Regions from separate parts of the Homo sapiens genome. Here region 2 is linked to region 1. The links come from fine-mapping of genetic effects on gene expression. A gene starts in region 1. The other region holds a variant in brackets. All regions are shown on one strand. Distances are between the middles of the regions. Region 1 holds the start of DERL3 (derlin 3). Region 2 overlaps SMARCB1 (SWI/SNF related BAF chromatin remodeling complex subunit B1).

What was found.
Region 2: its variant is fine-mapped to the expression of DERL3 in whole blood (TOPMed, PIP above 0.99).

What each region holds. Positions count from the first base shown.
Region 1 is chr22:23,836,773-23,842,144 of GRCh38, forward strand. DERL3 (derlin 3) reads right to left here and starts at 2,234. Exons shown (of 7, transcript NM_001002862.3): 1 at 2,123-2,234; 2 at 1,939-2,004; 3 at 1,792-1,865; 4 at 1,580-1,673; 5 at 887-1,082; 6 at 292-382; 7 at 1-190. The coding sequence starts at 2,215. The coding sequence ends at 97. It overlaps SMARCB1 (SWI/SNF related BAF chromatin remodeling complex subunit B1), which reads left to right. Exons shown (of 9, transcript NM_003073.5): 9 at 1-1,237. RefSeq lists a silencer at 2,157-2,459.
Region 2 is chr22:23,803,625-23,808,974 of GRCh38, forward strand. The region is part of intron 5 of SMARCB1 (SWI/SNF related BAF chromatin remodeling complex subunit B1); the gene reads left to right. Among named protein-coding and RNA genes, the nearest start is that of SMARCB1, 19 kb to the left of the region's middle. RefSeq lists an enhancer at 1-294. The variant A/G (reference allele first, on the strand shown) is at 3,088.

The DNA of each region.
Region 1 (5,372 bases):
GCCCAGCCTTTAGGATGGGTTTTTTCTGCCCCAAGTAGGGGTCATGGGTAGGATGGAAGCTGCCAGAAGCCTCTTAGGCCTGGCCCTGGGTGGGGGTCACTGCTGCGGGGGTGGCAGATGGGGTCCTGGCTGTTCCTCAGGGAGGGGCAGGTAATTGGGGTCTTCTGCAGGGGCATCCAGGAGCAGCTTTCTGTGGGGAGGGGCCCGTGTTGAGCACAGGCCAGCACAGGTCCCCATCGGTGGGGATCCTTCTGAGGGTGGGGAGAGGGAGGGAGGGCTCTCAACACTCACAGGAAGCCAGGGGTCTGCAGGAGCCTCTTGCCTCCAGGCTGGTTGGGGAAGACGTCCTCCAGGAAGTAGTAGATATGGCCCACCGCAATCCCTGTGAGACAGCCACGGACTGTGGGGTCACCCTCCACAGCCCAGAGTCCTAGACCAGCAGAGCCTGCCCCAGGCCCCCATCCACAGCCTGGTGGCCCTGCAGGCCCCACAGCATGAGTGCCCCAAAGCCTTGCACAGAGTGCCAGCCCCGGGTTGGCCGTGAAGGACAAGCTTAAAAGGCCCAGAAGCAGGCAGGACCCAGGGAGGGGAGGGCCTGAGAATAGTGGAGGAGTGGGAGCCATGGGGCAGGAACCCTGACCCTCCCATCCTCACTCCCATCAGGACCGTGCAAGCATCAGTAGATCCGTCCTGACGATGCAAATTATGTGGGCCGGCTGGCTTGAGGGGCTGTAAGAGCACAGCAGCTGGGAGGGCAGGAAGATGGGGATGGAGCCAGGTGTGAGGAGAACTCCAGCAAGGATGGGAGAGGGGCCCCAGGGCATAAGCAGCGTGTCCTGAGGGGAGTGGCCAGCCTGGGGCGGACTAGATGTACCGGGAGGCTCACCCAGCAGGTCCACGAGGATGGAGTTGCCCAGCAGCAGCGAGAAGCCCATGAGCGCCCAAGGCAGGAACGGTGCCTGGAAAGTGAGCAGGCCGAAGAAGTTGACCCTCACCCGAGGGCTGCGGCGGCTCCACACGTACACCAGCATGGCCATGAGGGCCTGGCCCAGGAAGAACAGGCTGCCCAGGAGTCCCAGCAGCTGGGCCAGAGTCAAGGTGCTCCGGTGCAGGCCTCAGCCCAAGCCCAGGGCCCCTCTGACTTCCCAAGACCCTGGAATTCTTCCCCTCATCTCCCCTATGTGCTATTCCCTCATCAAGATGAGCCAGTCCAATAAAGGCGACACACTCCACGGGCTTCAGGTCCCACGAAATCTGCCCTGCACACCTACAGCCTCATCCCAGGGCCCAACCACTGCCTGTCCCTGCCCCAGTTTCTCCCGGCTACTCGCATTCAGGGCTCAGCTAGTGGCCCTGACAACCCACCTGGCTCTTTTGTGCATGGCTTTGTATTTTGCATACAGCACTGAAGATCTAGCCCTGACCCCTGCAGCTGAGCACAGAGTGGGCCCTCAACACATACTAAGCTGGAGACAGCGACTGTGTCCCTCTCTGGCATGGCTGTGTTGGCCCCAGGACCAACACAGGCTGGACGCCGAGGCGCCCTAGCCCGAGGTTCCAGAGCCTGCGGGAAGGATACGGTCATAAGGACGCCCCCGAAGAGAAACATGAAGACGAAGTCGGCCGTGCGGCCGCGGAAGGAGCCCTCTTCCAGCATGCGGCAGTAGCGGAACCTACGGCGTCGGTATAGGAAGTGCCACCAGGCGGGGCCTCAGTTTCCCCGTCCCGGCCTCTCTCCCAGCCCGGCCGGCCTGCCCTCCACCCAGCCCGTGTCCGCAGGGCGCAGGATACACGAAGAGCATGTTGAAGAAGAAGCTGAATCCCAGGGGCCCGAAGAAGAGGAAGTTGGTGACGAGCCTCCAGACCTACGGGGGACGGGCGGTCAGGTGCGGGGTGGGTGGGTCGGGCCCACAGGTGCGCGGCGCGGGGCGGCCTCACCTGGAACTTCCGGAACACAAGGTGCGGGTTGAAGTAGAGTTGAAAGGGGCTGAGGAGCTCCAGCTGCTGTGGAACCAGGGGCCAGTCAAGAGCTGCCCGGGAGCCACGCCGTAACCATGGCGACCCTCACCCCTCCCGCCAGAGGCTGTAACCAAGGCGACGTCCGGTCCGCCCGGCCGCTTACCACCGCGGCGGTGGTGAGGACACAGGCTGCGGTGTAAGCCCGCGTCACCGCCGGCACCTGCAGGAACTCGGCCGCTAGTCCCTGCCACGCCATTGAACCTTCTCAAGCACGCGTGGCCCAGCCAGCAACGCGCTCTTTAACCCGCCTCCCAGCCCCGCCTTCGGCCAATCCGCATCCGAGGCGCTGCGCGCCCCAGGCTGAAAAGAGAGCCCCTGAGCCCGACAGCCAATGGAAGGAAGAAGAGGGAAATTAGGGGCGGAAAGGGAGAGTGGGCGGGTAGAGGCTGGTGGCCAATGGGCAGGCGCCAAGGTTGAGCACGTGGCGGTTGTTGTGGCTGCGGTGGTGGCGCGGGAGAACGTGTGGCCAATGAGGAACTGGTCATTTCGCGGCTTTCTAGGAGAGGACCAGTAGCGTGGACCCACGACACCACGGGGGCGGGGCTAAGATCGTATGGGTTACAGGAGCGAAGACCCGAGCAGGCGAGGCAAAACTGGAAAGGGCGGGGCGCGTGGGCGGGGCGCGGAGTGTGGCGGCTCAGACCGTGCTGGCTCACTAACTGACGACCTAGCCACAACGTTGTCCTCGCTGCCAGCCCAAGACAGGCCCACCTAACCCACAGCAGGGAGGCATTCGGGAATGTGTCCAAACCTCCCCAAACGTCCAGGGCCCCACTCAAATGTGCCGGCCGCTGTCGGGGTTCTTCCCCGGGGGCCCAAGGAAGGAGAGGCAGGACTGCGGGATTGAGTCCAGGTGGGGCGCGAGGGTTGAGAGGCGCACCAGAGCAAGTGGACAGGCAGGAGAGGTCCTCAATATTTTGGTGGAAAATAGAAACCAACCTACCCACCTTCCTTCCCTCCTTCCCTCCCTCCCTCCCTCCCTTCCTTCCTTCCACCGTTTATTAAACAACTGTTTGCCTGACACTGTTCTAGATGTTGGGGATGTAGCATGCAATAAAAGACACTGTCTCTTAGAGTCCAGCCAGGAGGCAGTCAATACAATAAGCTAGTGCTGACACTTGATGAGAATATTGCCAAGTGAGGGGTGGGGCCACGTGGGCGTCCGCAGTGCCAGGTGGGGTGACCTGGGATACCTCTAAAGTTTGTCACTTTGCAAGCATCCCTGTGTCCATCAGGATGGTAACTGTGAAAAGCAAAACAATAAAACAAAATAAGTGTTGGCGAGGATATGGGGAAATTGGAACCCTTGGGCACCGTTGGTGGGAATATAAAATGGTGCATCCGCTGTGAAAAACAATATGATCATGACTCAAAAAATTAAAAATAGAATTACCGTATGATCCAGCAATGCTGCTTGTGGGTACACATTCAAAAGAATCAAAAGCAGGGACTTGAACAGATGTTCATACACCCATGTTCATGGCCCCATTATTCACAATGGTTCACATCAGTTCACCCACCGATGAGACAGACGAAATGTGCTGTCTACATGCAATGCAATACCATTCAACCTTAAAGGAATGAAATTCGGATACATGATGCAGCATGGATGACCCTTGAAGACATTACACCCAGTAACATAAACCAGTCACAAGGCTGGGCGCAGTGGCTCACACCTGTAATCCCAGCACTTTGGGAGGCCGAGGCGGGTGGATCACCTGAGGTCAGGAGTTCGAGACCAGCCTGGCCAACATGGTGAAACCTCGTCTCTACTAAAAATACAAAAATTAGCTGGGCGTGGTGGCGGGCACCTGTAATCCTGGCTATTCGGGAGGCTGAGGCAGGAGAATTGCTTGAATCCGGGAGATGGAGGTTGTGGTGAGCCGAGATTGCACCACTGCACTCCAGCCTGGGCAACAGAGTGAGACTCCGTCTCAAAAAAAAAAAAACCAGTCACAAAAAGACAAATACTGTATGGTTCCACTTATATGAGAGGGGATCAGGGAGTTATTGTTTAATGAGTGCAGTTCCAGTTTGGGAAAATGAAAAAGTTCTGGAGATGGATGGTGGGGAGGGTTGCATAAGAATGTTTAATACCACTGAACTGAACACTTGAAAATAGTTTGGACAAATTTTATGTTGTGTATATGTTACTAAAATTTAAAAAAAAACAACAAACCTCTGTGTTTGCTGTCAGGGTAGTGGACTGCCAGAGGAATCCTTGAGCAGGGGGAATCCTTAAGGGACAGTGATTACTTTCGGGGCTGGGAGGTGGAACCTGGAGGACAAGGAGGGGTGGGATATGGGTTTGCCTACAGACGGGACAGGGCTGAGAGGGGAGTCCAAGTGGATTCAGAGGCCTGAGCCGCAGAGTGGTTGGATGGTGGTGGTCTTTGTTGAGATGGAGGGCTCGTGGGGAGAAGGTGAGGGGCATAGAGGGTCCTGTTCTGGACTCATCGAATTTGAGGCATCTGTGTGACATCACTTGGAAAAATCTGAGTGTGGTGTTGGGGTAGGGGTTGGAGCAGACAGTCTAAATGTGGGTGCCGTCATCCAGTAGTAGATCAATGGTATTTGTAGCTTTGGGCGTGTGTGAGATGCTCAAGGGGCAAGGGTTGATGGAGAAAAGAGGCCAGGCCTGGGTAGCCTGACCTGCAGTAGCCAGGGAGGGAAGGCAGCCCCAGCTGGGGAGGCCAAGGGAGGCTGAGCCAGGAAAGGGCTTCAGGAGCCAGGCAGTGAGAATCCAGGGAGACGTGGCCCGGGAAGGGACTGTGAATTGCAGCCATGCCAAGGTTCCTGGTAACCAGGATAATGGCAGGCAGGAGGGAGAGGAAGGCACACAAATGGATGTGCCTTAACAAACAAGGGGAGTGCAGCCTTGGAGGGAAGTGTGGAAAACGAGGGATGCTCTGGACAGGGCCCTGAGGTCCCCCGAGGAGACTGGAACTGGCCAAGAGGGAGAACTGGCTGAGAAGGCTCTCAGGTGGATCCCAAGAGCGTGAGGGTCCCACAAGGGCCCTGAGAGGGGTTCCCTGGGGAGTGGGGTGAGACCAGTGCCTAATGACAGTGGGTTCAGGAGCCTTCCTCCCTGCTCTGGAGGGGACGGGGAGAGCCTGGAGTGCTGGAGGGAAGTGCATTTGCTGGAGGGATGTGAGGAGAAGGTCTGGCCTCATACAGCAGGGGTTGGACCAAGACACTGAGGGGTTGGGGGCTGGGAGCAGGGTGAGCGGACCCCCGCAGACAACCTTGGTTTTCCAGCAAAGCAGGCTAAGGTCATGTTGGAAGCATGCCAGGCAGAGCAAATCCCACCCTGGCAGCCACAGTGTGCAGCAGGGCGGGGACCCAGGGCCTCT
Region 2 (5,350 bases), 33 kb before region 1:
ACTCTTTCCCCATACTGAGGTTGGGTGGCCCAAGAGGCCTGGCATGGGAGGCGGCTGATCTGCATAGCATGGATGATGATGACAATGCCAGTCAGACCTAGTTCAGCCCCCGAGCCCTGCACACACCTGCCTTGGGTCCTGTCCACCACTCTGCTTCTGCTGTGTGAGGCTGCATGTGTGCCCCGTGCCTCTCTCCTCCTCTAACTGGTCATCTCTAGACATCCTCACTCTGTAAGTCCTGGGTCAGATGCCATCTCTTCTGGCTCTTCCTGGGCTTCCAAAGCCTGGACAGAACTCGGTCTTTGTGCAAATGTAGACAGAAAGGTTAGAAGGATATGCATCCCAGGTGTCTAGACTGCTTATCCCATCTGGGAGGGTGGATCATGCATGCATTTATTGTTTTCTCTATTTTTAAGTCTGTTAGAATGTATTTTTATTATTTTATTTTATGATTACTGTTTTTTTAGATCTTGTTGCATACCAGTTTTTTTTTTACTTAGTGTCTGTATCCTGCTGAATTTTTATAATGAACATACTATTTATATTCAGACAAAATGCAGTGAATATCATCTTTATTTTACTTATTTTTTTTTTTAAGAGACAGAGTCCCACTCTGTTGCCCAGGCTGGAGTACAGTGATACTCTCATAGCTCACTGTAATCTTGAACTGCCTGGGCTCAAGCAGTCCTCCTGCCACAGCCTCCCAAATAGCTAGGAATACAGGTGTGCACCACTGTGCCAAGCGTTACCATTTTTAAATGAGTAAATGTTTAAAATCATCAGAATCTCACCACCTGAATAATGTTTTCAGTTTTACCTTTTCTGTCAATTCCACATGCAAACATATTTAACATAGTTGTCACTATAGAGCAAGTATCGTTTTATTTTTCTTCACTTATCATAAGTATCTTTCTGGTTTCTCTTTTTTTTGGGAGGGGAGATGGAGTCTCACTCTGTCGCCCAGGCTGGAGTGCGGTGGCACGATCTCGGCTCACTGCAACCTCCGCCTCCTAAGTTCAAGCGATTCTCGTGCCTCAGCCTCCTGAGTAGCTGGAACTACAGGCGCGTGCCACCATGCCTGGCTAATTTTTGTATTTTTAGTAGAGATAGGGTTTCACCATGTTAGCCAGGCTGGTCTTGAACTGACCTCAGGTGATCCGCCTGCCGTGGCCTCTCACACTGCTGGGATTACAGGCGTGAGCCACTGCACCCAGCCTCTTTCTGATTTCTTTAATCTTCAAACAATGCAGCATTTTCTCCTGGGTCAAGGCGCCTTTGTTTGCTAAAACTCCCCCTGCTGTAGACGGCTCCACAGCAGATAACGTAGTTGCAGCATTTTTCTCTCAGAAGGGATTTCCTAAGGGAGGAGAGTATGAGTGGTTGTTGATATGTGGCTGCCTTGAGCTTTCTGAAGGATTAGGCTGCTTCCTTTGGTCATCCCCAGGCGCTCAGCATGGTAGGCCTGAGTGCTAGGCCTACCACTTGCTCACACCAGTGCCAGGCCTGAGTCCGAAGGCCTCTGCTCAGCCCTGAGAAGAAGGCCTGAGAGCCATGTGCCGGGTGCTTGTCCCGTAGGTCCCACAGGTCAGCTGGTGAGGGGGGACGCCAGTGGGAGGAGACATGGGTGAGGGAGGACACTGGCAAGAGACTCCGGGAGGTTGTATTGAGTGTAGATGGGGACAGGTACAGTTCACTGGTCATGCCCCAGAACAGGGACAGGACAGCCCATGGGGACCAGGCCACCAGTGCTGCACAATGCCTGTTATCTCTGCCAAGCTCCCCGTTTATCTCTGCTGGCCCACATCATAGTTATTTGTTAATTCTTTTCTCTCCCTCTCCATTTCAACCCTTTAAGGTCAGGGGCCTTGTTTTTCATTGCCGTTTTTCTTCTTTTTTTTGAGATGGAGTTTCACTCTTGTTGCCCAGGCTGGTGTGCAATGGCGTGATCTCAGCTCACCACAACTTCCGCCTCCCAGGTTCAAGTGATTCTCCTGCCTCAGCCTCCCGAGTAGCTGGGATTACAGGCATGCGCCACCATGCCTGGCTAATTTTGTATTTTTAGTGGAGACGGGATTTCACCATATTGGTCAAGCTGGTCTCAAACTCCTGACCTCAGGTGATCCGCCCGCCTTGGCCTCCCAAAGTGCTGGGATTACAGGCGTGAGCCACCGCGCCCGGCTGCTGTTTCTCTTAACATAGAATCTAGCCCAGCATAGGAACTTAGTGTTCCAATTGGATCAGTCCATGCTCTGTCTCGTTACCTTTCTTTGGGCAACACATAGAAAGTTCTGGTTTGTTTATACCCCCGCCCTGTTCCAGAAAGGATGCAAGGAAGCTTACCATAAGTACACTGGGCCCAAATGACTAAAGCAAATGAAAACGGAGTGGTTAGGAAAAACTGGATAAAGAGGAAATGTTCAAGTTGAAGAGGGAGCTCGTACTCAGCTTTTATTTGGTGAACATTGCTGGGAGTTGGGCGTGGCTCTGGGCCTTTTTAGAACCAGGCAGAATGAGACGTGAAAATCATTTGCATACTCAGTGTGGTCAAGGTTAGCAGCAGCCTGTGGCTCTGAAGAAGTAGAATCACACGTGGTCCTGGAATCTGAGATTTCCTACAGCCCTCAGGAAGAGGGCACAGTATAGTAAGGAAGACCAGGATCGTCCATGAACTCCACAGTGAGTTTCACTGGGCTGTTCCTCCTAGGAGTTCTAATGTAAAATATGATGCCCACTGAAAGTAATTTAGAACAAAGTCTTAACCAGTGGAGAACCAAAATAGTGTTGTTCTGCGAACTCTTCCTCAGCTCTGGGTGGTATTTGGCATTTGTAAGAGCTGTGATTCTTAATTGGTGGTTAGATGCCATGCCAAAATTGTTACTGATTTGCTTTGAAATTTCAGATCATCTTAAAGGTGGGCATGAGAGTCTTTATCACAGAGGGATTAAATATGTGAAGTAGCAGTACTTGAGTAGCACGAATGAAGTGTATGTTCAGCCCACCTTCAGAATCAGGATTGGCCAGGCGTGGTGGCTCACGCCTGTAATCCCAGCACTTTGGGAGGGTGAGGTGGGAAGATCACTTGAGGCC[A/G]GGAGTTTGAGACCAGCCTGGCCATCATGGTGAAACCCCCTCTCTACTAAAAATATAAAAATTAGTCGGATGTGGTGGCACACCTGTGGTCCCAGCAACCTGGGAGGCCGAGGCACAAGAATCGCTTGAACCTGGGAGGCAGAGGTTGCAGTTAGCTGAGATTGTGGCATTGCACTTCAACCTGGGCGACAGAGTGAGACTCTATCTCAAAAAAAAAAAAAAAAAAAAAGGAATCAGGATTTTTCTCAGGTTTCTGGTAGGTGTTGTGATGAGTTTGAGGTTATTTTCTCTGAAAAGGACTTGAAGTAGTGCTTCTCTGAATCACTGGTGATGTATGGTGTCACCTGGCTTAACAGCCTGCTGAGGGAGGGAAGTATTAAAATCCTCCAGAAAAGATGAGTTGCCTAACCAGAACACATGTGGACATAGATGCCATCTTCACCCAGAAGGGGAACAAGGGGATCCCCTCAGGAAGAGTTTTGGAATCTGTCTTGGCACACAGGCAAAGGAGTGATTAGGGCCCTGAGTGTCTACACTTGGCTACAGAAGGCAAGTTTTTAGAGATTTATATCCACATGCTTGTTTTGGGCTCTAAAAAAGTTAAATGAGGCTGAGCACAGTTGCTCACGCCTGAGGCTGAGGTGGGCAGATCACTTTACCCCGGGAGTTCAAGACCAGCCTGGGTGTCACGGTGAAACCCCATTTCTACAAAAATTCACCAGATGTGGTAGCACGTGCCTGTGATCTCAGCTACTTGGGAGGCTGAGGTGGGAGGATAGCTTGAGCCCGGGAGGTTGAGGCTTCAGTGAGCCGTGATTGAGCCACTGCACTCCAGCCTGGGCAACAGAGTGAGACCCTGTCTCAAAAACTTTTTTTTTAAAGTTAAAAAAAAAAATCAAATGATAGATTCAGGAAGCCAAGTGAAGCCCAACATGATTAACCCAAAGCAATCCATGCCAAGACACATCATAATTAAACTTCTGGAAACTCAACACAAAGAAAAAAATCTTGAGAGCAATCAGAGAAAAAGGACAACTTACCTGTAGGGAAAAGACAATAAGAATGGTGGTAGATTTCTTTTTTTTTCTTTTTTTTTTTTTTGAGATGGAGTCTTGCTCTGTCGCCCAGGCTGGAGTGCAGTGGCATGATCTCGGCTCACTGCAAGCTCCGCCTCCTGGGTTCACGCCATTCTCCTGCCTCAGTCTCCCGAGTAGCTGGGACTACAGGTGCCCACCACCACACCCGGCTAATTTTTTTTTTTTTTTTTTGAGACGGAGTCTGTCGCTCAGGCTGGAGTACAGTGGTGCGATCTCAGTTCACTGCAAGCTCCGCCTCCCGGGTTCATGCCATTCTCCTGCCTCAGCCTCCCGAGTAGCTGGGACTACAGGCGCCTACCACCAGGCCCGGCTAATTTTTTGTATTTTTTTTTTTGAAACGGAGTCTCTGTCGCCCACTCTGGAGTGCAGTGGCGCAATTTCGGCTCACTGCAAGCTCCGCCTCCCAGGTTCACGCCATTCTCCTGCCTCAGCCTCCCGAGCAGCTGGGACTACAGGTGCCCGCCGCCATGCCCGGCTAATTTTTTGTATTTTTTAGTAGAGACAGGGTTTCACCGTGTTAGCCAGGATGGTCTCGATCTCCCGACCTCGTGATCCGCCCACCTCGGCCTCCCAAAGTGTTGGGATTACAGGCGTGAGCCACGGCGCCTGGCCAATTTTTTGTATTTTTTAGTAGAGACGGGGTTTCACCGTGTTAGCCAGGATGGTCTCGATCTCCTGACCTCGTGATCTGCCCGCCTCGGCCTCCCAAAGTGCTGGGATTACAGGCGTGAGCCACTGCGCCCGGCCAAATGATGGTAGATTTCTCATGAGAAACTGGACGCTAGAGCAAGTGGCAGGATATTTTTCAAGTACTGAAAGAAAAGAACTGTTAATCTAGAATCCTGTACCCAGTGACAGTATTGTTCAGGAATGAACGATATTGGACATTCTTTTTTTTTTTTTTTTGAGACGGAGTTTCCGCTCTTGTTGCCCAGGCTGGAGTGCAGTTGCACAGTCTCAGCTCATCACAACCTCTACCTCCCGGGTTCAAGTGATTCTCCTGCCTCAGCCTCCTGAGTAGCTGGGATTACAGGCATGTGCCACCATACCCGGTTAATTTTTGTATTTTTAGTAGAGAGGGGTTTCTCCATGTTGGTCAGGCTGGCCTTGAACTCCCACCTCAGGTGATCCACCCACCCTCGGCCTCCTAAAGTGCTGGGATTACA